Regions from separate parts of the Homo sapiens genome. Here regions 1 and 2 are each linked to region 3. The links come from fine-mapping of genetic effects on gene expression. A gene starts in region 3. Each other region holds a variant in brackets. All regions are shown on one strand. Distances are between the middles of the regions. Region 1 has its middle 8.1 kb from the start of LINC01491. Region 2 overlaps MYEF2 (myelin expression factor 2). Region 3 holds the start of MYEF2 (myelin expression factor 2).

The links.
Region 1: its variant is fine-mapped to the expression of MYEF2 in thyroid (GTEx, PIP above 0.99).
Region 2: its variant is fine-mapped to the expression of MYEF2 in fibroblasts (GTEx, PIP above 0.99).

Annotation. Positions count from the first base shown.
Region 1 is chr15:47,849,135-47,859,531 of GRCh38, reverse strand. No RefSeq gene overlaps it. Among named protein-coding and RNA genes, the nearest start is that of LINC01491, 8.1 kb to the right of the region's middle. RefSeq lists an enhancer at 7,320-8,519. The variant A/G (reference allele first, on the strand shown) is at 5,485.
Region 2 is chr15:48,144,227-48,154,623 of GRCh38, reverse strand. It overlaps MYEF2 (myelin expression factor 2), which reads left to right. Exons shown (of 17, transcript NM_016132.5): 10 at 731-832; 11 at 2,340-2,390; 12 at 2,682-2,750; 13 at 3,053-3,151; 14 at 3,453-3,524; 15 at 5,253-5,461; 16 at 5,541-5,592. Among named protein-coding and RNA genes, the nearest start is that of SLC24A5, 28 kb to the right of the region's middle. RefSeq lists an enhancer at 4,239-4,803. The variant A/G (reference allele first, on the strand shown) is at 4,539.
Region 3 is chr15:48,173,340-48,183,736 of GRCh38, reverse strand. MYEF2 (myelin expression factor 2) reads left to right here and starts at 5,442. Exons shown (of 17, transcript NM_016132.5): 1 at 5,442-5,660. The coding sequence starts at 5,500. It also overlaps a transcript of CTXN2 not described here. RefSeq lists silencers at 5,201-5,300, 5,471-5,900, 5,931-6,100 and an enhancer at 4,847-5,498.

The DNA of each region.
Region 1 (10,397 bases), 320 kb after region 3:
TCATCATCACAGTATTTTTGCTAATATTGGGAATAGTAATGTCAGGTCTCTTTCTAACAGAATGAGGGGCTTGGCTGCTAGATACTTGTGTTTTATAACTCTCAGAAAAGGAGTTTATTGTCACTTGCTCACATTGCTCGGCAGGAAATGGGCCTGGAATCCTGGCCATGGTGGGCAGGGTATCTGTGGATTTCTATTTTCCACACCAATTGCATATTTCACATGTCTGTTTCCTGGTGGTTGACTGCCCTCCCATTCCTGACCTACCGGAATCATCATCATTTCAAGAAACAAACATAGGAATATTCCCCTTCCAGGTAAGATACAGCCTAACCAGCATTTTCCCCAAATGAGTATTTTAAAACTAGAGATTTGTATGGCTCATTTAGAACCATTTTACCAGAAAAGGCAGCCGCAGGGAAAATGACTTAAAAGGACATGTGAAAGATGGACTCAGCTTGTCTTCGTGGTAACAGAAATATTGCTATTATTAATATCATGCACTTAAAGAGTGCTGCTTTCCCAAGGAGCTCAAAGCATTGCACATATATTATCTTATTTCTCCTTGCCATATGCAAGGGAGGTAAAAGACAGAAATAGGCAATCTTCAGAAAAAAAAAAACAAAAAAAAAAACACTGTTTACTGAAGTAGCTTTGGGTTGGACTGGAACCAGATCAAATCATCCCTGTCTGGTAGGGAGAGAGAATCATAGTCCTGGGAGCTCCTGACCTCCTGTTGCACTTTGCTGAACGCTGGGGGAGGTACCCCAGCGGGAGGTGAGAATGTCCCGAGAGAGAAACCTGCACCCACACCTTGGGGAGAGACAGTATGCTGTGAATCTCCCGGCTTTTCAGCTGCCTTCAGAATTCACAGCTGGTTTGGGGGTCCCACTTCCACTTGGAATTGCACACCCTTCTGAATGAGAGATTGAGGTGAGTGCCTGCCCCGTGGCATTTTGTTGATCTGACATCTTGGCTTCTGATCTTGGGTGTTCACGCAATTCTCCAGGTAGAGTCAGGAGTGTTCCGCATTACACAGAACCTTGCCCTCTAAAGGATATTGAACACATTTAGCATTAGGTAGTAGAAGAGGCACTGGACTGGGCTCTCCTGTTGCACCAGCAAGGAAAGATTCAATGCAGTGTCACACACCTAAGAAGCAGTCTGTGAGTGCAGGCATTTATTTCACAGTCTACACCCTTGGCCAGAATCTACTGCACACATGTCACACTCATGTTCACTTTGACTGGAATTTGACTCAACAGAGAGCTAGTAGTGAAGGGCTTCAAGCCCACATTAGATAAATGCTATACTATGTCTGAATTGGAGCCTGATGGGGTCACCTTTCTCATTTACAGGTGATGGGAACTTTGGAGAAAGTGAGAGTCTTTGAGGACAAGAAGAACCACTCCAAAGGCTCCCTTGGGTCTGTGTGGGGGAGAAAGCTTTACATGTCAGAATCTGACAGACTTGGACTTCCAATCCCGGATCCACGTGTACTTATCTGTAGGTTCTTGGAAAGCTCTTTAAACAGTCTGAGTCTCCACTTCCTCATCGGTAAAATTAGCATCATAACCTATATGAGGTTGTGGTTTTGAGGCTTTAAGGCACATGACAGGTTATTCCTCATCAAGGGGAGCTCAGATAAGACTGTGGGAAACATATAATGGCTCAAGAAAATTTACCTTTCTGTTTTGCTTCCAGGTTTAGGTAGCTTAGAGCCCTCAATGTTGCCAGGAATGGTAAAATTGAATACATCCCTCTGGGAAAACTCCAGGAAAATGCTGGCATTTCATTACTATTTACTGTGAGAACATTTGTTCATTTGTTCAGTTGGTCAGTGAGAGAACAAATATTTAGTAAACTTGTTAGGCACTGGGCTAAATATTACAGGTAACATGATGGAAAAAGACCCAATCCCTGCCCTCAAGGAGTGGCAGCTGTTGTATTTGGTTGATTTCCCCCCAGTTGATGATATTAAAACCCCACGTGGCCTGAGTAGAGTTGCTGAAAGAGCGGTGAGAGAAAACAGCAAATGCTTGTCTGAGTTCACGTAGCCCTGGGAGTTGGCAATTCCAATCACAATTACAGTCTTTTCTGTCAGGGTTGACCTTTAAGGAGATTGCCTCAATTATAAAAGGTCAACATCTCCTGGTTCTGGCACAAGCAAGTCCTGAGCTCGGTAATAAAATATAGCCAAATAACCCCATGGAGTCTCTTACCTCTGCCACCCAGCAATGGCCTGTGGCTGTTAGACTTCTTTGGAACATAGTGGTCATGTAGCTGTCAGATGCAAGGTGTGTACTGGGAAATTTGTATTTACATCTTAATGTCAGTCAGCCTGTGGACTTTTAAATTAGCAATTCAAACTTTGGTTTTATAGCTAGTTAGTCATTACGCCCAAACAAGTCAATTTCAAGGATTATGCACTTCTCCATACAAAAGTTAAGGTATGTGAGTTAAGGCTATAGTATGTAACTTTTAGAGGACTCATTCCTCCAGGTATGAGGGCAAGTGGGCAAGAACATGCTGTATAAATTCCTGCTTTTCATCTTGCTGCCTTGACACTTCTGGATTCAAACTCCAAAAAGATAAATTACATCTTTTGATGTAATCTGTAAGGATAATAGTGACTCTTGACCTCATTGTATTGCCCTGCTGTGAAACTCTCCATTTGTGTGGACTACAAGACCCCATCTCTCCAGACCCAAAGAGTAGAAGACAGACCAGGTTGAATATTTTCTTCACAGGGACAAGACGAAGAAGAGTTCATAGAGAACAGTGAGCTGGGTCAGACTCATGGCGAGTCTGCGGAACTGACTTCCCACCTGCACAGTTTCTTCTGTGAACCAAACCCAGCTCTATCTTCACATCAATTCCAGAGAGTTGTCCTGTGTGTCACCAGACAGGAAAACTGGTTTATTCTTGGGCCAGTGGCACAAAATCAAGCTGGGGACTAATTTTTCTTGATTTTTAAAATTTTATTTTAATTATTGATTTATTGATTGATATAGGGTCTGGCTCTGTAGCCCAGGCTGGAAGTGCAGTGGCATGATCTCAGCTCACTGCAATCTCTGTCTTCTGGGCTCAAGTGATCCTCTCACCTCAGCCTCCCAAGCAGCTGGGACTACATAGGCAAGTGCCACCACACCCAGCTAATTTTTTAAATTTTTGGCGGAGACAGGGTTTTGCCATGTTGCTCAGGCTGGTCTCAAACTCCTGATCTCAAGCAATCTGCCAGCCTCGGCCTCCCAAATTCCTGGGATTACAGGCGTGAACAAGTGTGCCCAGCCCAATCTGGGAACTAATTTTAAAGCATCTTTTCACGTAGCATAGATTTCCTCATCAGGGGACTGGAATTTCCAGCTCTTGTGCCCTTGATATTTGAGTTGCTTTTTAAGCTCTAGTTTTCAGTCACTGGAAGATCTTTTGATAAAATACTATTATCGCACTTCTTTGCTTACTCCTAGAATAATGCTGATAGCAGGACACTTTCTGATATGGTGGTTAGACATTTGCATTGGCTTTTGGATAGTATGTCAGTTGTTAAAATTTGGACTTTTCATAACACAGAAAAGAGCTTCTCACCTCTGGGCCACAAGGTTTATGGATGAATTGAAATTTTTATAATTATATCCAAACAATTTTAAGTATATACATTTTTCTGGGGGAAAAGAGCTGATGTTCTTGTCAGACACTCAAAGCAGTCAGTGACCTAGAAGAAATGAAAAACCACCAATCTAAACAAGGTTTCCTTAACTTCAGTAGCTGGTAGGTCACTCGGAGAGATTAAAGGTCAATTATAGCTGGAGACAGGAGTAATAGGGAAGGTCCGTCTGCAGTAAAGGAAGGTGATTCTCAGACCCCTAGAAAGTGTGAGTATTGTCATCATGGGCCTGGAGCCTGGTTCAGATGGAATGTATTTTGGTTTTGGTGCCTGTATTCTGGCTTCACAATATACATCATCCCGTTGCTCTGTGATGAGTTTTTTATGGAAACACCTTGTCCAGAGAAGCACCTTACTTACTTCAATTACACATTAATTATAATTTCATGGGCTTCTTATTGCCAAAAAATAGGAAAGCCTTGCCAATATGAATTGTATTTTATTCTGGCCAGGGGTAGTTTTACTTTTATGGTATCAGAGGAACACCATTTTTGTACCCAGTTTTCTGTGTAAATAGTAATGGAAAGTAAAAAGCACAAAGCCAATGAGGAGAACTATTAGAACCCAAATCATACAACAAAAGGCTATGGGGAAAAGAAGTGATTCATAAAATGAAAGAGAAGCATTTAAACCCTTCCTCAGTAATAAGCTCAGAGAGATTAGAAAATATATTCACGAAACAAGATTTGAATGCCATAAAAAGACACTGAGAGAACAAGAAAAAAGAAAAAGCCTCTGCTGATTAACATACAATTGCCAAAAGCAACCAAAAAATCAATAAAAGAATTAAAGTCTGTGGTATTTCTCAGAAAATAGAAGAAAAAGACAGAAATGGGAAAAAAATGCAAGAAAAGATAAGAGACATAGGGAAAGGAAACATCCAGGGAGTGCATATTGGATTAATAAGCTTCTTAGAAAGAAAGAATTAAGAAAACAAAAGGAAGTAAAAAATCAATAAAAAAAGGAATTTTCTCAGAGCTGCAATACTGGCACCATCCAATGGAAAGGACTTACAAAGTGCTGATTCCAAATAATAGAAATAAACCTTTTCTAGACACAGCCTTGTGAATTCAGAACACCAGGGACAAAGAGAAGACCTGCAAATCTTTCAGAAATTATTTTCCCAAATCCCTACAAAGAAAAAAGAATGCAATTGGCATCAGTCTTTTCAAAAAGCAAGGTTGGAAGGTAGAAGACAATGAAGCAAGAAACTTCAAATTTGACGGAAAATTATACTCAAGCTCAAAGTTTATGTCCACTGAAGTGGGAGTTCGGAATAGAAAGCCTTTTAGACAGTAAGTATTTAGAAAATGTACACCTCATTACTGATAAGTTTGAAATATCAGGTTGAGAAAAGTGGAGGAAAAGGGGCAGCTGAGCAGCTGCCAGAGAGAGTTGCCAAAATTAGGCCATGGCTTTAGACCCGTGGGACACCACTCCCACCTCCATTGAAGGCTGAACATGCAGTTTGTCTCATGGTTGCTCCTGGGCCTGGGCACTAGGCACCCTAATACCACTGTCTTGGGGTCTACAGAAATTCATCACTCCAGCCACTGCCGCCAACCATACCATCCAGACTTAACACTTCATGGTGCCCACTTCTTTGAGTCATTAGTTCTTAATTTAAAGTCTTCAGTAGTAAAATTTTATAGGCAAATCCTAGGTAACTTGTTCATGGCCTAGATGCAAAGGATATCAGGGAAGTAGACTGGGGCATTTTCAGCTTTCAATAGAGGAACTTGGGCTTTGACTCCAAAAGACGCACCCTGTGGAAAATTCCCCAGCACAGAAAGAGAGTTTAGGTTCTGAGTATAAAA[A/G]TATTTACAAATGTCTTTGCAAGATAGCTTGGACATGTTTGGTGATATGTTCAAGGCAAAAGCACAAACTGAAATGAAAAAAAAATTAGAAACTCCAAGGAAAACAAAAGAAGGAGAGTAATGGTCCAACCGTGAAGCAAAGTCAAATGTAAATTGATTTTATAGAATTAATTGAGTATAATGGGAAAACACACTTTTAGCTTTGATGCTAGAAACTTTTCCTACCAATGACTCAAGGATCCCAAGGTGAGACCTACAAAGAAGAGGTAATCCTGGCATGCTGTTCAATACAGGAATGAACAGCATTTGCATGATCATGATAATGTAAACAGGTTTTTGTTTTTGTTTCCAATGTTTTCTATCAGTTTACACAAAGTACATTTGCTCATGATTGCAGGACAGAATGTAAACAACTTTGACAATGCTAATGGATGGGTGACAGGGAGGCATGTAGAGGGTGGAAGGAGAAAAGGTAGAGGAAAAGGTAGGATACAAATATATTCATCCTACATTTAAGCCTACATTTGCATGGAGTTGATTTTTTGTTTCGATTTGTTTTCTATTTTAGTGTTGGTACTGCCTGAATTTCAGTTTTAGAAGATATCAGCAAAGATCTGCAACAGAAAACTATATTTTCAAACTAAGCTCCTTACTTTGACAGAAGTTGTTGAGTTCGAAATTAATTCTTGTCTGTAGATCAATGGATTGCATAAATGGCAGATCAACCTTGACAAGATGGAACAAATACAATCATTAGTGAAGTCCTAACAATGCAGAACAATTGACTGTGAATTTAGGTCAGTTTGTCTGCCTTGAAACACTTTTACTCTATACTATTTCATACTTGACTAGTCTTTACTGTGTGCTTGACGTATTTTGTAATTGTTTTGTAGGCAATTTGGAATCGCCAATATAAAAAAAAATGTATTTATTTAAGACGTGAATGTGTAGAATATGGACAGCATAGTTAACCAGAAGTTTTAACATAGCACAGGAAAGAAGGGCATAAGTATAGTAAGATTTTGGAATGGTACCAATGGTTAGAATATGGGGGTTGAATGTGCAGGGAGGAGAAGAATTCTGCTAAAGTATGGGAGTGGAGCAGCGCTGTATTTCCAGAAGACAAGAAAATCTGGATCTGGAGTCAGTGTTTCACAGTTCCTTCATAGCAGGGACTTCAGATTTGGCAGGCAATGTAACGGGCCCAAGAAGGGGACCTCCTTATGCATGCAGGGTGGTACCTGCCTTTTCTTTTTCTTTTTTTTTTTTTTTTTTTGAGATGGAGTCTCGCTCTGTCATCCAGGCTGGAGTGCAGTGACACGATCTCGGCTCACTGCAAGCTCCGCCTCCTGGGTTCAAGCCATTCTCCTGCCTCAGCCTCCCAAATAGCTGGGACTACAGGTGCCCGCCACCACACCCGGCCAATTTTTTATATTTTTAGTAGAGACGGGTTTTCACCGTGTTAGCCAGGATGGTCTCAATCTCCTGACCTCATGATCCACCCGCCTCGGCCTCCCAAAGTGCTGGGATTACAGACGTGAGCCACTGTGCCCGGCTGTACCTGCCTTTTTAATCATCAAAAACTCGACTTCCAACAGACTGGGTTTTGGGGTTGCTTCCTTATTTCCATGGATCATTCCTTGTGTCTGTAAGAAAGATACAGCAGCATAGGCATATTTTATTTCCTTGGAAGTTAGTAGACTTGTCCTCTTTTGTGGGGTTTCCTGTATATTCAACAGGGTGAGAGACTTAGGGAGAACTCTAAGTTTGCCTGGTAAGGAATTTACTCTTCTTGCCAACTAGAAAGCACAGAAGAATCCAGTTTCTATAAGCTTCCCGGGAGACACATGCTATGAGTAAGATGCTTTCTAGTACTCCCACTTTTTCCTAGTGCTTCCTCTTTACTTCAATGTTAGATTCATAATTCTTTTTTTAAATTATTATTATTATTATTATTTGAGACAGAGTCTTGCTGTGTTGTCCAGGCTGGAGTGCAGTGACACAATCCCAGTTCACTGCAACCTCTGCCTCCTGGGTTCAAGTGATTGTCGTGCCTCAGCCTCCAAGTAGTTGGGATTACAGGCATGTGCCACCATGCCTGGCTAATTTTTGTATTTTTAGTAGAGACGGGGTTTCTTCATGTGGTCCAGGCTGGTCTTGAACTCCTGGCCTCAAGTGATCTGCCTGCCTTGGCCTCCCAAAGTGCTGGGATTATAGGAGTGAGCCACTGTGCACAGCCTTAGGTTCAGGATTCTTAACCATTTTTGTAAATATTTGAGAAGAAGCTCTGAAGGCAAATACTAAGCTTGATGGATAGTTCCAGTGCCTCCAGCTTGAATCCTGTTGCATTCAGGTGAACACACATTCCCTTGGTCATGAGTTAGGCAGCCATACCCAAAAACAGTCAGGCTAATTTCACACACTCACTCCTGGTCATAATTTTAGTCATCAAAAGACTGTCCTTTATGTTTTTCAAGATTCCTTCTGAAACCTTTGACTAATCATGCCTCTTAGTTTATGTTGTTAATGTGGGATAGGTCAAAACATTTGCCCATTCTTATTTGTGAGAAAGGTCATGACTATTACTACTTCTCACCGTACCCTTGACCTCTACCCTATCTGGCTCTTTTTAATCATAGTGTTCATGACTTGCCAAGAACAGAGTTCTTGGTCTGTCTAAACTGAACTCTTGATCTTTCTTTTTGCTGTTCCTTCATCTGTCTTCTTCTGCTCGTGAAGACATCTTCATCTTTCCAAATGCTGATGCTGGGAACTTGGAGCAATCCTTGATCTCTATTTTTTCATCACTCACTCTATACAATCTCTTCCAAGTTCTATAGATTTTATTTTGAGTCCATCCACTATCTAAGTTTATATTCCCTCAAGACTAAGCCACCTACATCTCTTTCCTAAACACCAAAAATAGCCTCACTAGTTTCTTGCTTTCTTTCTTGGACCCTTGTAGTCTATTCTGCACATGATTGTTAGAGTAATCTTTTTTAGAAACAAACAAACAAAAAAACCCCCACACATTTGTCATCCTGTCACTGTAGAGCTTAAAATCTTTCAGTTGGCAGTCAGTATACTTAAAGTACAAATTTCCTGACATGGTTTGCAGCAGTTTTTGATATGGGCCTTGCCTCCATCTCCAACCTCATCTTGGCCCGTTCTCCTCCTGACCCCAAGCCCTTTGTTTATATCAGCCTCCTTCCATTTAGTTGAATGTGGCCAAGCTCTTTCTCACTTTGAGGCCATCACACACCTAAAAAGTTCTTTCTCTTGGTCTTCACCCGGATTACTCCTTCCTGCCTTTCAAATCTTCCTTTCATTACCGCTTCCTTAAAAATGCTCCCTGTGATTTCCAAGGTATACAAGATCCTCTGGTCATACTACTTGCACCATAGAATTTATCACAATTTGAACTGACAAGTTATTGTATGTGCACGTATGTATATTTGTCTAACATCTATCTTCCCAGTCAAGCATGTGTTCCATACAAGAGGGGACTATCTCATTCATTTTTCTATTCCCAACAGAATACCTAGCATGAGGTAACTGCAAAAAAAATTGTTGAGTGTTTGAGTGAATGGAGCTTAGCCTATTGAGGGCCAATTACTGTATCATTAGAGTCCTCAAACATGTGGTCCTGAGTTTTGAGTACTCAATTGAGGAGCCACATACAAATTTGAGGTTTGACTTGACATTAGTGAGGATGAGGGTGAACCCTGCTACAAACATGCAGAAAAGAAGGGACATGGGCCAGTGGGATTGGGGAAAGGCAGAAGTAAGAAAGGATAAAGCAGAGGCCAGGCTAGACTTGGATTTGTCACATCTGTGAACAGCTGCTTGCCTTTAGAGCTGTGTTCTTCTATAAAACTATAGCATGAGTCATGTATATGACTCTATATTTTCTAAGTCACATTATACAACAAAAAAAAACTAATGAAATTGATTTTAGTAAATTATTTTAATTTATTCAATATTATAAACGATTACTATTTCAACATGTAATCAATGTAGAAAATTAAACAGATATTTTACATTCTTTTTTCATATAAGTCTTTGAGATCTGCTCTGTACTTTACACCCACAGCCCATCTCAATTTAGATCAGCCATATGTCAAACACTCAATAATCACAATTGGCAGGCTGATGACTACCATACTGGACAGAGCAGGCTTATAGGTTCTTTCTTATATTAGTCTACTTGGTTGCTATGACAAAATACCATAGACTGGGTGGCTTAAGCAACAGACAATTGTTCTCACAGTTATGGAGGCTGGGTAGCACATGATGAGGGCATCAGTATGGCTGAATTCTTGGTAGGGGCCCGCCTCCTGGCGTGCAGACTGCCATGTCTAGTTGTGACCTGGCATGGCAGAAAGAGAGAGAGAACTCTGGTGCCTTCCTCTTCTTAAAAGGACATTAATCCCATCATGGGGGCCCCATCCTTGTGACCTCATCTAAACCTAATTACTTCCAACTACCTTCACATTCAAGATTAGGGCTTCAACATAGGAATTTGGACATTTGGTCCATAACTTCTGAAAGGTTTATTGGCACTGACCATGAGCTTGCCCTGATTTTCTCCTAGTGGGATATTATCATTCAGGTAGGATACGATTCCTTGAGTGGCAAATTCCAAGCAACTTTAATTATCCTCCAGGCTGAGGGTGGTGTGTAAAGCTGACATGTAAAAGAGGAAGCTTTTGTACGGCTCCAGATCAAAGAACTACAATGGAATGTTCAGGAGGCAGATTGTACTTAGAAGTTTAAACAATCAGAACTTTCAGGAAACAAATGAGATACTCTCTCTTGCACTTCTTGTCATTAGAAGATCCAAGTAGCAGCTGATGTCCACTTGGGCCAGGATTTGATAATTCAATGAAGACTTCTATCAGACGATCCCTGAA
Region 2 (10,397 bases), 29 kb after region 3:
CTTTGAAAGTATTCTACAGTCTTCATGTTTACACTGTTGCTATTAAGTCAGCTATTTGTTGAATCGTCCTTTCTTTATAAGTAATCTGTCCTTCCTGTGCAGTTTGTGCAGTTTGACAGCAAAGACCAAAGTCTTAAAATCAGCTACATGTCATTATGCAAGCAACCTAAGGTCTCAAAAATTTCCTCTTCTATGGACAATAGATGTGGAAACACTTAAGGTGCCATATAAATATAAATAAATATTTATATCAATGAGAAAACTAGGTAATATAATATTTGCCTTATTCAGTGTTATACTTTCATGGTTATTGACTTTTTAGTTTGATTTGAACCATTTAAAAAGTAATTATCAAATTTTAAGTGGGTCTACAAATTTGGGCAAGATACTCATTTTCAGATATGTGTGCCATATATAAGGTGATATGATATTATTCAAAATCCTCTAGGTATTTTATTATTCCTCTCAGTGTACCTTTAAGTGGGGTATAAGGTGTACTTTGTATTATATCATGTTTTATTTCATAAAACACTTCTCATTAATAAATGGTTTTATAGTCGGGCTTCAGTGTGCTACTTTCTAGACAAAAACAAGAACCAGTGCTTTTATATGAAAATTTGCAGAAATTTTACAGATACTACTACAGGTATATAGCTTTTTAAAAAATTTTATTGCCAATTAGTTAATCATATATGGATCTTTGTAATGATTGTTCTCATTTTTGTTTTAGGTGGTCTTGGAGGCATTGGGATGGGACTTGGTCCGGGTGGACAGCCTATTAGTGCCAGCCAGTTGAACATAGGTGGAGTAATGGGAAATTTAGGTCCAGGTGGTGAGTATTCTAACTTCCTCTTTTCTTTTTAAATGATACATATGCTAGCTAATAAAGCCTCCATTGATGTGGTCTGTAATAATGTTTAAAGGACTCTAATTAATAGTTAGATATTTACGGTGTCACTTCATTCTGAAAAAGGAATGAAACCTTGAGCACAGCTAACATGAAAGAGATAGGCAGAAGTCAGGAGGGTTTCTTTGGGGCCAGCTATGTTGTAGCTAGCCTTTTAGCATTTTGGATTTTGAAATGTCTTGAAGGCAGAAGGAGAATATATCATCTATGAACAGTATTTATGGAGTAGCTGAAATGCTACCATATCATAGGCAGCTAAAATCTGTTTATCCATTTGGGAAGGTGGCTTTTCAGGTAGTTATTTGGCTGCTCACCTGGAAGAACTCACAGTTCATTTTTAGAGATTGGTTTTTAAACTTTGGTGTTAGGACCCTTTTATATTTTAAAATTTGTTGAGAACCCGAAAATGCTTTGTTTATGTAGTTATAATTACCAGTATTTACTGTATTATAAATGAAAAATTAGAAATTAAAAAAATTACATATTAAAAAATGATAAACTCATTACATGTTAACATACATAAAAGTTTTAAGAAAATAAACTATTTTTCAATGCAAAAAAGAAATTGGTGAGGAGAGTGGCATTGTTTTACCTTTCCACACATCTTTTTAATGTTTGGCTTAATATTGCTGTTATATCTGTTTCTGCACTTTAGTTTTTTGTGATATTGTACATCATATAGTGTTTGGAAAATTACACCTTAAACTCAAGAGAATGAGGGTAAAACATCAAATAATGTCTTAGTAGTATTTGGTGACTTAAATAGTTTTGACCTATTGAACCCTCAAGAGTCCCTGGACCATACTTTGTGAATTACTGTTTTAATTGATGGACTAATAAATGCTATCAGATTCCTATTTTGTCAAGATGCTGTAGTCACACTTTAAATTATGAGGCTCATTATCATAATCATTCTGATCCAAACAAGTTTTCTCCCTTACCCTTAGACTCTCACACCTACCTACCCTCTCCTAAATACATACTATTTATATTTTGAAAATTTTTACTGCTCTTTTAACTGCGATGTTTAGAGAGTCCTTACATTCTGGCCTGATCTCTAAATCTGCTGTAATGCTATTTCTGTGTCTATGCTGGAAAAAAAAAATCATTGATAGTAGTATTTCTGTGTTTATTGTGGAAAAAAAAGTGAATGATTACCTAGTTCAAGATATTCTCTAACTGAATGTTGTGGGTGTTACTAGTGAATTTTGCTTTCTTGTCTGATAAATGTTCAAAGAAACCCTTTTGAAGATTCATGATTAGACAGCTGCTATGGCATAGCACTTTAAACCATGCCTCCTGTACCCTACCGCTTCTCTAGTGTTTCATTGTGGTTATACCAGTGGTATCTATTTTGCTATAATGCATTATATCATCTTTTAGTCATAAAAATAAAATATACTTAAAGTACATACTGTGTATTTTATTTGAGGTATGGGAATGGATGGTCCAGGTTTTGGAGGAATGAATAGAATTGGAGGAGGTATGTATAAAGATTTGTTTTTTTGTATGTACCCATCACCATTTTTAATAAACTAGAAACTGTGTTGAGAATTCCATGAAAAAAAAGTCATGGTTTATTGTTGGCTCATGTTCTAAAGGCTGCTAGCAGAAATTGAGCCTGGTACATACTTAAAGGAAGGTGATGTGTTAAGAAGTAGCTGCACAAGGTAGGGTGGATGAAGAGCTTACTGGTGAGATTTAACATTTACAAAACGTACCTTTCAGCTACATGACTGACAGTTGGATCTCAAAATTAATCTTTATTCCATAGGAATAGGGTTTGGTGGTCTGGAAGCAATGAATAGCATGGGAGGATTTGGAGGAGTTGGCCGAATGGGAGGTAGGTAAATGTATGCAGTGGGAAGTGTGTGCATATTTAGTTTTCCCTATTATTAATATTTCCCCCCTATAACTTAGGAATGTGTGCTAAAAATGTCTTCAGAAGGCATATAGGCACTAGGGGATAAGGACAGGCCTGGGGAATGGGGATGATATGTGTGGCATGTGAGGTAAATTGGGTAAATGACAGACTATTTTATATTTGTGACTTACGCGTCTTTTCATAATTTAGATACATTCCTGAATGTTTTCAACATGTATTGATATATTTGAAAAGGTTAATTTGTTGCACAATTTTTTCAGAGCTGTACCGTGGTGCGATGACTAGTAGCATGGAGCGAGATTTTGGACGTGGTGATATTGGAATAAATCGAGGCTTTGGAGATTCCTTTGGTAGACTTGGTAGGGCTGGCTGCATACTTCTCCTTTTCTTTTTGTAGGCTATAATTTTTGAAATTTGGTTTCTCTTTTTTTGTGAAAAATCAGAAAATCATAATGTTTTATACAACTTATTACCTGAAGAAAACACTTTAAGGATTTTAATATGCTAGCTCTCTTTTTCAACATCTTACATATTTGAACTCTATTTTCAGAAGACTTTATGCTTTTCATTTATTGTAAATCAGAGCACATAGTACCTTGGGAATTTTAAAGTATGATTATTTAAAATTAATTAGTATATTATCTTTCCATCCTTGTTTAGGCAGTGCAATGATTGGAGGGTTTGCAGGAAGAATAGGATCTTCTAACATGGGTCCAGTAGGATCTGGAATAAGTAGGTTTAAATTTTACTAGAATTTATTCAGTAATATTTGAGTGCTTGCAAAGACTTTGCAAGAGTAGTTATCGTAGTATAGTAATACTTTGTTCTTATACGTTAATGTGTCTTGCTATAATTTGAGAAACCTTGATAATTGAGCAAAGCCTTTCTGTTTGATTATTGTTTGAAATTTCTAAATTAACTGTTTGAATTTTACTTTTTTGATATTTCTAAACTATGTGTTAACAGCCAATCCAGGAACCTTCTTTCCAACTAAGGAATCTGGGGATTTCTCTGATCATGTTTCAGGAGCAACTTTTGCTTTAGCACCAACTTTGTTTCCTTGCTTATTTTCTATAATAGCTATTAGTGACTAGCTTATTTTATTTGTAAACATCTATGTCTTTTGGTAAATGCAGATATAGCACTCTTAGGCATCTCCTGAGCTTGAGTCAGGCTAAGGTTGAAAGAGGTACTTAATTCTTTTCCTCTTGAACCTTTCCCGTAATAGCATCAAGAGTAGTTGCAACACTGGGGAATGCTGAATCTCCCATCCGTCTATTTCCACTCCTACCTTTTAGGCCTTATATTAAGCCTGAATACATGGATTATTTATTTATTTTTTTAACCTCTTTTGCTTACTGGGACATGTCTCTGAGCTCTCCATACTTTATTGACTTCCTTTAATTGATCAAATTTCACAAATAGAAAATACAACCTATTTAAACTATTCTAAAAGTAAATTCTAAAATCCTGTCAGCTTAAGACGTCTACTTCCATTGTATCTTGCTCCTTTTATTCCTCCTTCCATCATCTTTTAGCCTCAGCCATTTCCTATTAGTCCTAACTTCCTTACCTTCCTCTTTTATCTCAGTGTTTGTACTTCTGTTTCCCTGATTTTATATTGGTTATTCACAAAAAGCCAATTTGAGGGTGATGTTAATTTTTAGAATTTCCATGTTTGGGGATATTACATACAAGACAAAAGGTTTGATAATGAGTAAGATGGGAGCAATTGAAAAGGACAGG[A/G]AATCGAGTCAGTGCATAAGAATGAAGTAGGTATGAGTTCGGAGCTAAATTCTTAAGCTCTGGCTAACGGGAAGTGATAGCATTTTTTGTTCCCTTGACAAGTTCCGTGTAATATTGAGATTAAAAGTTATGTTTTGCTATGAGTATTGAATTACCATGAGAATAAAAACTGGGAAACAGAGGTGAAGATGCTGAGGTGAAAGATAAGCTAGGAAAGGAGTATTTACTTGTAGGAGAGTATGATGAGAGCGGCTTGAGTGCTAGAGTTGTAATAATTTGCATTTATCTCTGTGTATCTTTATTTTAGCAATTATTATGCTTGATATTATTGGAAAATAAAAATAAGGATCAGAACAACTGTCCTGTTATTGGAAGCAGTGATTGGTAGAGGATTTATATATTTATATGATATATTTAGTGATCAGAATACAATTTTATACAGTTATATATGCATAATGTATTTATACAGTGGCTAGAATTTCTCAGCTAACTAAATGTATATGTAAGCAAATTCTGTTCTTTGGAAAGTTGTTATCTGTATGAAAATAATTTTATGTTTTTATATTATTTAATTATATAAACAAATTAATTTCCCCCTTCTTTCTCAAAAATGTTTATCTCCTTTTCCTCCTTTCTCCTCTTCTCCTTTTCCTTATGTTTTTGAAACAAAAACACAAAATTCCCAAATCCCCCCGTCCTTTCTTGAAAATCCAGGTGGTGGAATGGGTAGCATGAACAGTGTGACTGGAGGAATGGGGATGGGACTGGACCGGATGAGTTCCAGCTTTGATAGAATGGGACCAGGTATAGGAGCTATACTGGAAAGGAGCATCGATATGGATCGAGGATTTTTATCGGGTCCAATGGGAAGCGGAATGAGAGAGAGAATAGGCTCCAAAGGCAACCAGATATTTGTCAGAAATGTAAGCAAATAAATATTAAGGATAATTCAAATTCTTTTTTTTCTTGTATATATGTTACTAATACCTCTTTTCATTCTAGCTACCTTTTGACTTGACTTGGCAGAAACTAAAAGAGAAATTCAGTCAGTGTGGTAAGTATGCAAATGACTGCAGATATGTTGATATTGATTATGGAGGAAAATTGGTTTTAAACTTTTATACACTGTGTTTAGACCTTTGCCTGTCCGGATGCCTATTCCTGGATAGTCTTGATAGCGTGCCAGGTCTAATTCCACTTCAAATAAATGAATTATTTCACTATCTTTTGACTTAGAGCAGTGCTATTACTACTAGGTAATAACAAGGTTTAGGTAACAAGGTTTAGGATATACCCTATCATTGTTTTCTGTTAATAAAGATAGGGCTTATTTTATTACCTCATTTTAAAAAGATAAATATATTATCATTCTTTGCATTAAACTTTTTTTCTCATGAGAAATATTAATAAATGGTATATTTATTTCCTTGTTTATAGTATAGTGCAGGGGATTATCAGCATAACCAACTGAGATGCTGATGTCCAATTGATAAAGGAGTTAATAGGTGAGACCCATTCTACATACACTGTATTCCTACCCAACACAGGAAACCTAGCTGGTAGCATACAACCCACTGTCAGGAATGCCTTGGACATGGGTACATTTTGGTTGCCCTTCTTATTCTTTTATAAACTGTTCTTAACTATAATGATACTACTTATACAACCTTAATGTGTTCCACAGGTCTGTGGAAGATTAGGTGGTTTATCACTTTTAAAAAAGAGCTTTTTATATACCATACTTAACTTTTGTTACAAATATCTTAATTGACTAAATTCTCACTTTTTCTTTCTTTTGCAATAATGAGAGAATTCATGTGAGTGTTATAAAGTAAAATATTTTTTGCTAGTATTAATATTTTTCTGCTATTGCATGGAATCTCAGCGACTGTAGTCACAATAGGAAATTACATAAGATAGCATATATATAATTTCTGAGGTCATGAAGGAATAGGTTTAGTGTTCTGTCACAAAATAGCCTTTGTGGCCACTACAGAGATAATATTATCTCATATTTCTTTATATCTAACTCTTTTGTAGCTTTTATTATATTAATAGTTATTTGTTCAAGTTTTCTTCCATCCTACGTGGAAGCTCTTGAAGGCAAGAATTGTCTTTTTATCTTAGCTCCTTTTATTGCCTCTGTACATATGGTAAGAGTTTATGAAAAGTTTATAAGTTAAGCATTCTGGGTAGATGTTCATTTATTCAGTAATTTATTCATTAAATCCACAAACATATTTTTGGCAGTCTGTTAGGCCCTAGAATTTTGAAGGTGAACAAAGTGAGATGCTCCTGCCCTCAAAGAACATACAACATGAATTTGTCTAGGATGTTCTGTTGACTCTCTTTCTTGATCATCCTTTTATTTTGAACTAATCAAAAATTCAAGAAAAAGTTGTTGAAAACAAGTTAACTGGTTAATAGTCACCACTAAGAGAAAGCAAAATAGTAAAGTGGCCTTGAGGTATTGGTCTTCTTTGCAGGAGTAAGAAGATCTACCAGAATGAGTAAGCAGTGTCTGGCCATGAATCCTGTAGACTACAGAGGAAAGAATGTATATAGGGTCTTAGTGAAATACATCAAATGAGGAACAGTGGCAGCAAGTATAATCTGTGTTGATTTAGTTTGAGTGAAAAAAAAAATCTCCAAATGAGATATGACATTATGTTAAAAGTAGAAATGAAACTTAGCAAGATAAAGAGCAAAGCAGGACAAAGAAATGACAATGAAAAGGTGACCATTGTTGAGTTGACTGTTCTTTATTCTTTGTAGGCTGCTTTCTGTTTGAGGTTAGATATGAGCAAGGCTTGCAGCAAACTTCAAGTGTTTGGTGGGCTTCTGGTTGGAGTGGCATTGTTTTGACATGAGGACATCAGCAATTGCAAGACATTTTTTGAAAGGAAAAAACATTCAAATCTACATAGAAAATTTTTATAGTATGTTAGCCATATAAAATAATGGTTAAATTATTATTCTTTACTTTGCTATTTTAGCTCTATTCTTATAATCCTTTTTCGATTATAATTATATTTTAAGATTAATGATTTTTGTTTTATCAATTCTTTTGTAAAAGTTTCTGACTCTTAGATTTTATATTAAGATAATACCATATTTACACAATTCCCTATATCTCCCTTATTTTTAACCTTGAACTACATTGATGGAAAAGTTATAATAATATAGAATTAAGTGTCCAGCTATTGACAACTATACAAATTATCTAGCTAGTATGAACTGAACCATCCATTTTTCTGCCATGTCACTTATTTATAAATCTTTTTCTTAGTATGAGACATTTCTTTTTAACATGCTGCAAGCCAGTAATGGCCTCTTGGGCAGTAAAAGGCAGTCTTCTGTTGTTGTTTTTCTTGTAAGCCCAAAGAGAGTAAGTATATTCTCTTGCTTGCTTCTTAGTAAGAATCTAGTAGTACTCCTTGCATCTCCCATAAACAATATCTGTCAGTAAAGGGTGCCACTGGCAACCCCCTCTGCTTATAAATTATCTCTAGTGATTAACTGTTCTTGATGGAGTAATTACAAAGGCTGAGTAAATGTTATATTATGGGTTATATTACCCTCAATAGAACATTTTCTCAGCCTTTGTAATTCAGAAAAGATTGTTTTCAGATCTTTCCAAATATAACAAGATGAGAAATAAGTGAATATAACTGCTATTTTCTGGTTCCATCAAGCCCCTAAAGGTAACATTTTTGACCCCAGGCTGGTAAGATACACATCTTTCCTGTAGCAAAAGAGATCTATCTTTTTATCTTGCCTTGTGTAATTCCTCAGAGAGATGCATTTTCAAAAAGGCTGAGTATAAATAAATTAACCTATTTAGTATTGGACCCCACATCATTTCAGCTTGTGCTAATAGGGTCAAATGGGCATAGTCTTTTAAATGTGCTCCCATGTCATCTGTATACTTTAGCTGCATTCTGGCCTTCTGGCTCAGTATGATGCAAGACTATAACATTTTAGAACTTCAGCACAAGGAAAACCCATTCTCAGTTATTCCTGCTATAAGCCATATAAACAGATATAACTTTGTTCCACAGATTTCCATTATGTAGTATTTCTACATCAGTGTGCTTGTCAACTGCATGGAAAATGGAGGCTTATGGTAGATTTTATTGATTAAAGTACTTGCTGCTTCAAGCATTTTGAGTGGACTTTAGAATAACTTAACAGTAAAATTGCAGTAATAGTACAAATGATATATGATGAGCATTCATTGATAGGCTCTGTCTTTTGTTTGTAAAGAAACAACAGAATACTTTGCTTTTCTATCCCTTATATCCTTATTATGTTTTCTTATCGTAGAATTTCTGATTTTCCTGTTTTCATCCGTGGTTGTGTTAACTTCATGTAGGCAGTAGATTTTATTGAACATCCTTTAATTTGGTCTATTTTTACATGTGTTTTTATACTGGCATATCCCAAAATATACCCCACAAGATGTTTATAGACTGGGTTAAATAAAACAGAAAGGTTTCTTTTACTGTGGGACAAATCCTTTTTATTACTAGTATATGTAACAGCAATATGTTTGATTATTCTGTGATACTGATTTCTCATGGCATACTATTTTGTCCTGTGCTGTTGCCAAAATATCAGTCCTGTTTTTGTTTTCTTGGAATCGTACAAGATTATTAGATATTTAACTTAGTTGAGGAAGTTCTCAGAGCATGTAAAAAGTCAGGCAGGTTTGATTTTAATCAGCTATTTGAAACTAATTTTTTTCTCCTCAATTATTTATCTTTAGAAAAGAAAATATTTCAGTTGGTGTTTTTATAGGATCAGGAAGAAACTTAGAACATCTATAACTCTTTCTGGTTCTGTACTGCTGGGATTCTTTTTAGGGGAGCAGTCTAACCATAAAACAAATATTTATGGGCTACTGTCCATATAGCTTGAACATCAGAACTGTGAGGAAGTTGAAGTATCTTAGCTGAGGGAACTTGTCAACTAGAAAATTTTTGAGGTCATTGTGAGGTCAGGAATTTGGAGGTCTGAGTGCTGATTTCTAAACTGAAAGAGGCAATTTAAGAGAAAAACAAAAAAGAGAAACTGTCCTGAAAGATCGAGAGACAGATTATGCAAGAAATAGTGACATATTTTCTTTTGAGGTTTTGAAGATTTCTTGCTTAGGTGAACTTTACTATTGCTGATAAATCTATGATGGGATACTTAAGAAAAACTCTACGTTTTTAGGTAAAATTAAGATAAGGAAGAACCTTTAACCTTAAAAGCCCTTGAAAATCCTCCACAGTTCTTTTCAAAATAACTGTAAGGTGCTGTCATTTACCAACAGCTTCTTTAATTAAACTTGCTTTTTTTCAGGTACCAGCATTCAAGATATTAAGAGGACTCTGGAAATTGTGCTGCATTTATCTTTAAATTGTTTTAAAATGTGTTTTCCAGTTTCATTTTATGATGTTTATTAGAAAGTGTGATTGCTATGTTTTTGCTTTTTTTCCCCATTTCATTCCAGTTGTGGGCTAAATATTATTTGGATCTACTTTAACCATTATCATGTAATTTCTCTGGAGATTAGCCTATTTTATAACTTTTCAGAACACATTTAAAGACTATCTGGCCTGTGTAACAAGATACTGGTTTTGTCTCAGTATGACATTTATTATCCTAGACCATTTAATTAGTGTTTAGTAGGTGAGCAGTTGACTACCAGTTGGTTTTCAAAAAGAAATGCAGTAATAGGGAGTGGATGAAAAAGTGAAAGTATAAAGTAGTCCATCATGTTATAGGTAAGAGATTATTCAGATCAAGATTTCAACAGAAAAAAATCTTCCTTATGGATTGATATTAAAGTTTGATCTTATCATCTGGAAAGGG
Region 3 (10,397 bases):
TTGTTAATGGAGTCAAGAGAATAAGATAAGTCACAAGTATTTTTACATACTTTATCTTATTTAGAAGTTCAGGCATTTTTAAATCTAACACACACAATGAATGAATGGATTGTTAAAACAAAATAAAATGGAGACCAGGCTTGAGAACCCTCGGAGCAGACAAAACCAGTTAGGCCATGTAAGAGTAACTTAGGTTATTTCTTGTAAATACCTCTGACAATTGTAAGTAAAACTTAAGTTGTCTTCCAAAAATGGTATAAGATGATGAATTTTAAACCAATCTGTTGTCTGAAAACCTCCATGGTAATAACAAATCATCGTAAAAGTTAAAGTTTCATTTTTGCTTTATAAGCCAGCCTATAATGCCATGCCTCTGAGCTTCCACTTAGCATTTTCGGTTTGAGATCTCTCAGTTTGTAAGTTGTTGTTTTCTATCTATAATTTACACATTTTAAAACATTTGGCCTGATTTTATTTTTCAAAGCACGATTGCACACATAGGGTAACTGTCTCCTTCATATGTGGGTACCTCAGAAAGCATGCCAAATGGTTTAGAAACTGTGCAAAATATTACCTATTGACACTTAGCATCGTTTTTGCCCTTCTAAGTTCTGTCTCCTATGAGACATTTATCAAACTCTGTTGCTAATAGTATTTCAATCTAAATTCTACCAAGGAGAGGCACTGTTACAAAATTTGCAAGGAGGAAGGGAAAGAGAAGCCATCAATTTCAGTAGTGGCTGCAGGTAACTTTGTGGGTATCAGCAAACGGCAGATGGAATGTTAAGTCAGCAGATTCTGGGCACAAGGAAGTCTTGAGACTTATCTTGTTGTTACAGGTCAGAGGGATCCTTGGCCATGGTTCCTTGTGACTCCTGCTCTTCCTAATATTTCAAACTCTAGCAATAGCTCCTGGACCTTTGCCCTCTCAGCCTTACTAATTGTTGTATAAGCCTCTAAGACTTTATGCATTAAATCCTTTCCTAGAGGAAACATCTATAGTGTTTGACTGAGTCAAAAGCTTTCTTTTCCTGACTGATAAAAATAGCTAGAAATGAAAATCATGGAAATATATTTTGTTTATATACATACTGCATATTGCATATACACACATATATATATTCTGCATGTTTAAACACTTTGTGAATTGAAACATAGTAACATGAAATCACTTCAATCTACCATTTTGCAATACACCATGAAAAAATATCACATCAGTATACTACTGAAAAATCATAGCTTTCACCAAACTAGGCTCATAAGCAGCCATCAGGAATGGTGTGACCCTTGAGGAAAAGGGCTGTAATACGGTACAATTTTTGGATTCTGTTTAGTTTCATGAAATGGAGGATCACAGACAGAAATCCAATGGCAATGCCTGAAGGCAATGGAGGTTATTTTCTGAATTATTTGAATAATTGAGGTAAAAGTGGAGTTTCTGCCTGGATTATTCAGATAATTGTCTTAATTCTAAACTTCACTTAGCTAGCTGGTAGAGACCTTTGTATAGGATGTATTTTTGGAATGCTAAATGCTAAAAAAAAAGAACTCCTAAAGTAAGCAGAGCTGTGGTGTAATGAGGGTGTATTGGGGGTGATACAGAGATACGGAGGGAGAGAGAGAGAGAAAGGAGGAAAAGAGAAGAAGAGAGAGAATGGTAAATAGCTAATCGTCAGAATAAGATTAAACTTTACTTTCTACTTGATAGTAACCAATGTCCACATTTTCATCACAGAATGAACTTTCTATAAAAAGGGAAATACATATGTAGATTTCAAATATAAACCATAGTATTTTAAAAAGTTACGAATTCCTTTTTAAGCTTTAAAGAGGTAAATTTTTACTTTGTAAGGTTTAGAAACTTCATGCCTTCAAATCCAGCAATTTATATAGTGAAGCAAATTGACTTAAAAATTATACCATACTTTTTGTTTTACTTCATATTGTTGGTCTTTGCCGTTTAATTCTTTTTTCTTTTTTGAGTTTCTGAATACCCCAGAGAAGGTAATCTATTTATTATGAATTCTAGGGCTAGAATATCAGCACAAATATGGAAGTATTTTTAGAAGCTATTGTCACCATAGAAATGTTAGCCACCATTTTTGTCTAGTTTCTTTTTCTTTTAAATTTTATTATTATCCCTAAAACTTAATTCTTAAAGACAAAATAAATTAAAAAAAAGAAGAATGATGACATCCATTCTCTTCTTCATTGGTAACAGAACCCTGGGCAGTAAGCCCAGCCCCCAAATTATTTGCCAACCTCCCCCACAGATGAGTGTGTCATGTGACTAAGTTCTTGCCCATAAGCGGAAGTGTTGTGTGAGACTTCTGGATAGGTCCCTTTTTTTCTGGACTCCTTCTGACCTACAATGCCGACAAGGTGCCTCGATCTCCAGCAGCCATCTTGGGTCATAGGGCAACCTTAAGAATGGAAGCCTCACACTAGGATGGCGAAAGATTAAGGTAGCAGGAACCTGACTTCACGATGACTGTGAAGCTACTATATATCCTCTGGGATGCTCCTTCTGCATTTATTTTACTTAAGAGAGTAAAAATGTATATCTTGCTTAAGACACTATTATTTCTAGTTATTGTTATTAGCAGATGAACACAATTCCTAAGTGATACATATATTAAGGTATTAATTGAAAATATTTTGTGATTTCTAGGATTAGATTTCTAGATACGTGTAATAGCTTTTCCCCTATCCCGCCAGGTACACACACATAAACATGCATTCTAATTTGTAAGAAAGAAAACTAAGTGATTATGTGAAGTTGTACCAGTAATATATTTTGTGCAATTGCAAAGGATAATGCTTTTGCAATGTGAATCATGGGAAAATAAGAATTTGAGCATCACTTAAGAATTTTTCAATGTACCTACATGCACTAAAAAACAAACAAACAAAAAACAAAAAACCAAGGCCGGGCGCTCTGGCTCACGCCTGTAATCCCAGCAATTTGGGAGGCCAAGGCAGGCAGATCACAGGGTCAGGAGATGGAGACCATCCTGGCTAACACGGTGAAACCTGTTTCTACTAAAAATACAAAAAATTAGCCGGGCCTGCTGGCGGGCGCCTGTAGTCCCAGCTACTCAGGAGGCTGAGGCAGGAGAACGGTATGAACGCGGGAGGTGGAGCTTGCAGTGAGCAGAGATGGCGCCACTGCACTCCAGCCTGGGTGACAGAGCGAGACTCCATCTCAAAAAAGACAAAACAAAACAAAACAAACCAAAACAGTAGAGAGGAAGACAAGCAAATACAGAAATGGAATTCAGCAACAGAATATTAATAGTTTTTTCTTTATCTTTTGCAATTAATAGCAAGAAAGGAAGGAAAGATCAATCTATTGAGCAGTCAGATGGAATGGTAAAGATTAATCATTCTCTTCCCTTCAGAAGTTGCCTTAATTCTTTGTCTTTTAAGATCCAGCTCTTTTATAAGGCCCTCACCAATCTCTCAGTAGGAATTAACCTCTGCTCTTTATCAGGACTAGAACCAAGCTACAGCGGGTGAGGCATTTGTCTTGGGTACAAAAGTTAAAACTCAGTAATCAAGATAAATATTTTAATGGAATATTTTAATTGGCAAACTAAGGCATGTGGGCCAGTCTCCTGTTTTTGTAAATAATTTTTTAATTATACTTTGCTTTTATTTGTATTATAGCACTTAAATAGTACTTTTTACATTAGCCCTCTCCCAACAGGGCTGTACTCATTTTTGTATTCCTCATGTACCTACTACTCTGTTTGAAGCATAAAGGCCTCTTAAAAAAATCTTGCATTGAGTTGATTAAAGGATTTTTGCAAGAATATATTGTACTGGTGATGGTGGGGTTCAATTTTCATACTGAATTCAACAATAGCAAAAGAATAACAGAATGATGACTATTTTGAAAGTACTTATAATTTAGTGCTGTGGGAAAAATCACTTGGCTTGTCTTTGACTAAAACCCTGCTGAGCTTAGGGAGATAGAGAATTGTAATATTACATTATGTTCATATAGCACTTTTTCCTACATAAAGTGCTTTCTTTTAATCCTCACCTCAATCCTGTAAGGTCGGTATTGCTATCCCTATTTATTGTAGAGAGATTGAGAAATGAGGTGACTTGCCCAGGGAGTTATGGGCAAAAAGAGGCAGAGCTGGGGTTCTAACCCAGATTTTGTCTGTCACAATTGAATGCCCTTTCTGCGATTATAAATCTTATGTCTCAGAGTTGAATGAGAAACAATTTATACAGCAACTACAATAGCATTCTTATCATTAAAATGTTCTGATTATGTGTGTGTGTGTTTGTGTATGTGTGTGTGTGTATGTGTGTGTGTGATGAAGTAGCTGAACTTGGTATTTTTCGGTAGAGGGTAGGAAACTACACATTGAAAAGCCGAAGATGAAATTATGTTATTTGAGTATTACTTTCTAACTATAACTTTACCACTGATGTGTGTATGATATTCTGCAAAGTGACTAAACTGTACGTGTTTGCTTCTTCATGGAAAAAAAATTTGGGAAGGCATTTAAACTTTTCAGCTGAAAAAGGTTATGTCAATGTGAAAGATTATAGTACTCGAGAATTAGGAGTTGATTAAATTTAACGGTTTCCTTTTCATACTTAGGGGGAAAAATCTACGACTGTATTTTAAAACTCCATATGGCAATTAAATTTGAGAGCGTATAACTAACTACTTCACTAGAATTTCCATCAGTATACAATAAACACACAGTCAAAACCTCAAATGTCCATTATTAGCCCATCTAGTAGACGATATTTTATAATTATGGATTCCCCATATTGATTGATGTCCAGAGAAAAACTGCAGTCTTCTCTTACTAAGCTGATAGTTGAGTTCCTGGGAAATCCTCACCCCCTAAGAACAAATAATTCTCAAAGAAATTCAAAGTCATTCCTTTTGGTGAATTGCAATCAGTCATCAATAACTATTTATGGAATGTCCGAAGGGTGCCTAGGCATTGAAATGGCAAGAGACTTATATTTGCTTAATTCAAAGGATTTCTAAAGGCAGTCTGAGGACTTGCAAGAAGTCTTTAAAGATGCAAAGTGGTGTGTTCTTTAACTGCCCCTACCTGGAATGAATTGAACAGTCTGGGTGTTAGGGCTTTGATGTCTAATCCCGCTTTGCAAGCGAAGACTCCACTGGTGCCAAGCGACAGGCGGGCTGGTGGGCAGACATGGCACCACCACCGGGGGCTTTCAGGACTGGTCCAGCCCTCCCAGGCAGGTGTAGGGCCGACTGCAGCAACAGCGGCCCTGACCCCAGCTCCCATGGCTCCCCTCCCCCCGCACTCCCACCCCCCGCACCCGGCACACACCATCTCCCAGTCACCCAGTCTCGACCGGTTCTCGCGAGATCCGGGTTACTGAGCGCTCGGGGCCTTTTCAAATCGGGATCCGTTACCGCTTCCCCGGCAGCCGCCATTGTCGCGCTCGGAGCCCCTCAGCTCAGGCGGCCGAGGCGGAGGCAGCGGCGGCGGGATGGCGGACGCCAACAAGGCCGAGGTGCCCGGGGCCACTGGTGGCGACAGCCCGCACCTGCAGCCCGCAGAGCCGCCGGGCGAGCCGCGGCGAGAGCCGCACCCCGCGGAGGCGGAGAAGCAGCAGCCGCAGCACAGCAGCAGCTCCAATGGCGTTAAAATGTATTGTCTTTTCCTCCGGGAACCGGGGCGAGGTGGGGGGCGGGGAGTCTACCGGGCGGCTAGAGGCCGGGCTGTGCCCCGATGGGGGACAACCACCCCCAGACCCCGGCCCGCCCCCGGGCCATCGGCTTCCTGAGGAGCAGGTGCAGCTGGGCCGCTCCCAGGCCCTTCCCCGCCCGCCCCAGGCCTGGCCGCCTGTGGTCTGGGAGCCGGGGCTGGGGGCCCGGGGACCAGCGCTCTTCCCTGATTTCTAGCCCGAGACAGCGAACACCCCTCTTCCCTGACTTTGGTTAAAGAATCTTTGAGCAAAGCTCAGCGACCGCCACGGTTTGCAGGAAAATGGTCCCCCTTTAAGGACCAGTAGTTAGTGTTCATCACTAGGGAGTATCTAGGGATGACATCATCGGACATTTCCTCTTAACCACCGAGAACATATTTAAAAGGAATATTCCTGGCTTCTTTCTGAGCTTCACAAGTTTAGTGTTTTGTTGTTTTCTAAAGTGTATGTTCATTTTTAAACTGATTTATACCGAGAGGAAGTTTAATAATGTGCTGTTAGACTCTATGTTTTGTGTTACTCTTGAATTGGCTAGACGTACTTTAAAAAGGGAAATGTGCGATGTGCGTGGCTTCCCTTCCCACTGGGTAATGTGCGTCAGCTGTGGAGAGTATTTTTTTTTTTAACTCAGTGTATGATTATCTTAAGTTTGGTATAATAGATGGTTAAGATTTTTTTTTTCCCAAATGAAGGAAGACTTTTAAGGTCGCAGCTGTCACCAGTGCCTATAAAGAATTTAGTTGACCCCAATCCATAATAATTTCTGGTTCTAGGGAAATGTTATGCTCTCCTTTGTTCCTGTCCTGTGGGAGGATATGAAGTTAAGCGCTTACTTTCATATGCCTACCTCCTTAAACCTGAAGTTGAAAGTATGTTAATAATTAAGTGAAAACATCCTTTTCCTTCTCTGTTATGCCTCAGAGCAGAAAGCAATAGATATATGCTCACAGTAAAATAGACAAGGGAAAGGTCTTTCTGACCTTTGTATAAGCATGTTTGAAATTGTATGGTAAGAACTGGACCAGTCTGTGTAAAAGTTGGTGGCAAAAAAGATGGGGTAGCTCTCCCCAGCTCTTTGACACTCTTGCTCTCAAATGAGTTTGAACAGGATCGGCAGCATCTTCTAGGAGAATAGAGGTGCAGGTATAAGAGATTGGAACTTAGTGGAGTTTATTCCTGGATGAAGAGTGGTGCACCTCAGTAATTGAGGAACCAGAAAGGGAATGAAGTGCTTTCTACCATGCTTGCCAAAATGTGGGCTTTCTGGAATTTGGCATTAAAAATAGAAATGAAAACCGGTGGAATGATAAACTTAAAAATATGTGCTATTCATATCTAAACACGAGTATACATGCCACCTTTTCTCCTGAACAAAAAGTGCAGCCTTGAATTACAGAGAGAAGCCCTCCTATACTTGGGTATGATTAGTTTTGATATAGGGGAAGTTTGGTATCTAAACCTCCATCAGATTTTCTATTCCCTTCTAAAGTCTCTTCATGATTTAGCAAGACAGGAAAAGAGAAAGGAGAAAGGTGGAGAAAGAATCCTTTTCTAATTTAGGAAGAGAAAAATATAAGGTGAAGAAATGAAGAAATATTACTAGTAAATACAGATTATTTCCATATTGCTTATAATTCGCCTCTCCCTTTCTCTTTTTCCCAGAAGTTGAATCGAGTCCAATTTACTCTCAGGGATTTCTCTTACTGTCTATTCCATAAGAAGATTTGTGATGGTCCAGCATGAGTCATTCAAACTGAATAACTAGCGACCTAGTCCTTTTTTTTTTTTTTTTTTTTTTTACTTCGTGAACTAGTAGGAGTGGATAACAACCCCAATACATAAACCTTGAGTTGATTACCATATACTTTTAATAATAAAAATAATTCATTGTTGATTATAAAAATTACCATAATATTGCCCCAAATTATGTATTGGTTGGAATTGAACAGAGTACTGCTTGTCATCAGGATTGAAATAATATTTGCTGAGGTTAATCCATAGTTATTGAGGGTGGGAGACCACTATGTCTTATTCTTCTTTGTATTCTTAAGGCCTAGTAAATATTTGTGGAAGAAATGCAGAAGTGAACTTTCATGCTTATGAAACTCATATACAGGGAATTTAGTTTGCATATTCACACCTTTAGAAAAGATCCGTTTTCCAACTGTAGTCTTCTTCTTTAACGCCAAATGGTATACTAGCTCTCCTTTTCTTAAAAATGAATAGGAGGGAAAAGAGCAGTATTATTATAACTTTATTATTCATGTGTAATTAAGTATAACTTTGGAGTAGGTAGAGATTGAGAGTTATATTAGGGTACTATAAAATATTAAGCATTGGAGCAAGGTAATGTGTTCTTTAGCTGAGTGATTTTTATTAGGAATAAAGACTAGAACTGTTTCCCCCAGCTTTATTGAGGTAAATTGACAAAAATTGTATATTTTGAAGTGTACAGTGTGATGGTTTGGTATACAAATAAATTGTGAAATGATTACCACAATCACGCTAATTAACGTATCTGTTACCTCGCATAGCTACCATATTTTTTGGTGTTGAAAATACTTAAGATCTATTCTTTAAGCAAATTTCAAGTATACAGTAAATATGTTAAGTATAGTCACTATACTGTACCTTAGATCTACAGAACTTACTCATCTTATAACTGAAAGTTTGTGCCCTTAGAACATTTCCCCATCCCCTGCTGCCCTCCACCTCTGGTAAACACCCTTCTACTCTCTGCTTCTGAGTTTGACTTTTTTAAAAGTCTGTGTGTAAGTGAGATCATGTAGCATTTGTCTTTCTGAGTCTGGCTTTTTTCACATAGCCCAATGTCCTCTAGGTTTATCTCTGTTGTTGCAAATGGCAAGATTTTGTTCTTTTTGTAAGGCTGAATAATAATATTCCAGTGTGGATGTGTTGTGTAAACATAAAATATAATATATATCATGTTTCCTTTAATCATTTATCTGTCAATGGACACTTAAGTCGTTGTTTCCATATCTTGGGTATTGTGGATGATGCAGCGAACATGGGAGTGCAGATATCTCCTTGAGATAGTGATTTCATTTTCATTGGATATATACCCAGAAGTGGCATTGATGAATCATGTGGTAGTTCTGTTTTTAATTTTTTGTGGACCCTTGATGCTGTTTTCCATAATGGCTGTACCAATGTATATTCCCACCAGCAGTATCTAAAGGTTCTTTCTCCACGTCCTCAGCAACAGTTGCTATCTTTTGACTTTTCGATAAGTCATCCTAACAGGTATGAAGTGATATTGCAGTCTGGTTTTGAGTTGTATTTCCCTGATGAACAGTGATATTGAGCACCTTTTCATATACCTTTTGGCCGTTGGTATGTCTTCTTTGGAAAAATTATCTGTTTGGATCCTTTTCTCATTTTTTAAATTGGGTTGCTATTGAGTTGTATGGGTTCCTTATACATTTTTGATATTAATCCCTTATTGGATATATGGTTTGCAAATTTTATCTCTCATTTCTTAGGTTGCCTTTTTATTTTGTTGAGTTTCCTTTGCTGTGCAATAACTTTTTACTTTGATGTAGTCCCAGTTGTTTACTTTTGTTTGTGTTGTCTGTGCTTTTGGTGTCATATCAAAAAAAAAAAAAATCATTGCCAAGGCCAAGGTCATGGAGCTTTTCTCTTGTGTTTTCTTCTAGGAGTTCCATGGTTTTAGGTGTTATAAGTTTTTAATCCATTTTCATTTTGTTTTGTATGTGGATATCTAGTTTTCCCAATACCATTTTTTGAAGAGACTGTCCTTTCACCATTGTATATTTTTGGTGCCTTTGTCAAGGATTAGTTTACCATATATTGGGGATGTGTTTTTGAGTGTTTGTTATGCTCCATTGGTCTGTGTGTCTGTTTTTGTACCAGTACCATATTGTTTTGATTACTATAGATTTGTAATATAACTTGAATCAGGTAGTGTGGTACTTTTAGTTTTTTCTTCTTGTTTAAGCTTGCTTTAGCCATTTGAGATCTTTTATGGTTCATACGGATTTCAGGAATTTTTCCGTTTCTGTGAAAAATGCTGTTAGAATTTTGATAGAGATCACATTGAATTTATAGGTCATTTTGGGTAGGAAGGACATTTTGACAATATTAATTCCTCTCATCTGTGAACATGGAATATCTTTCATTTGTATTATTTTCAATTTCTTTTATCATTGTTTGATCGTTTTTCAGTGTATAGCTCTTTAGCTTTCTTGGTTAAATTTATTTCTAGGTATTTTATTCTTTCTGATGCTATTTTAAATGAGATTATGTTCTTAATTTTTTGGATAGTTCATTATTATTAGTGTGTAGATATGCAGTGGATTTTTGAATGTTGACTTTGTATTCTATAACTTTACTGAATTTGTTCTAATAGTTTTTTTGGTGTTGTCTTTAAAATTTTCTCTGAATAATTTTCTATATAAGATCACATCTTCTGCAAACAGAGTTAATTTTACTTCTTTCTCTCCAATTTGGTTGCCTTTTATGTCTTTTATTTGCCTAATTGCTCTGGCTGTGACCTTCAGTACAATGTTGAATAGAAGTGGTGAGCATGGGCATCTTCTCTTTTTCCTGCTCTTAGAGGTAAAACCTTCAAATTTTCACTGTTGAGTATGACATTAGCTATGGGGTTGTCATATATGACCTTTATTGTGTTGAGGAAC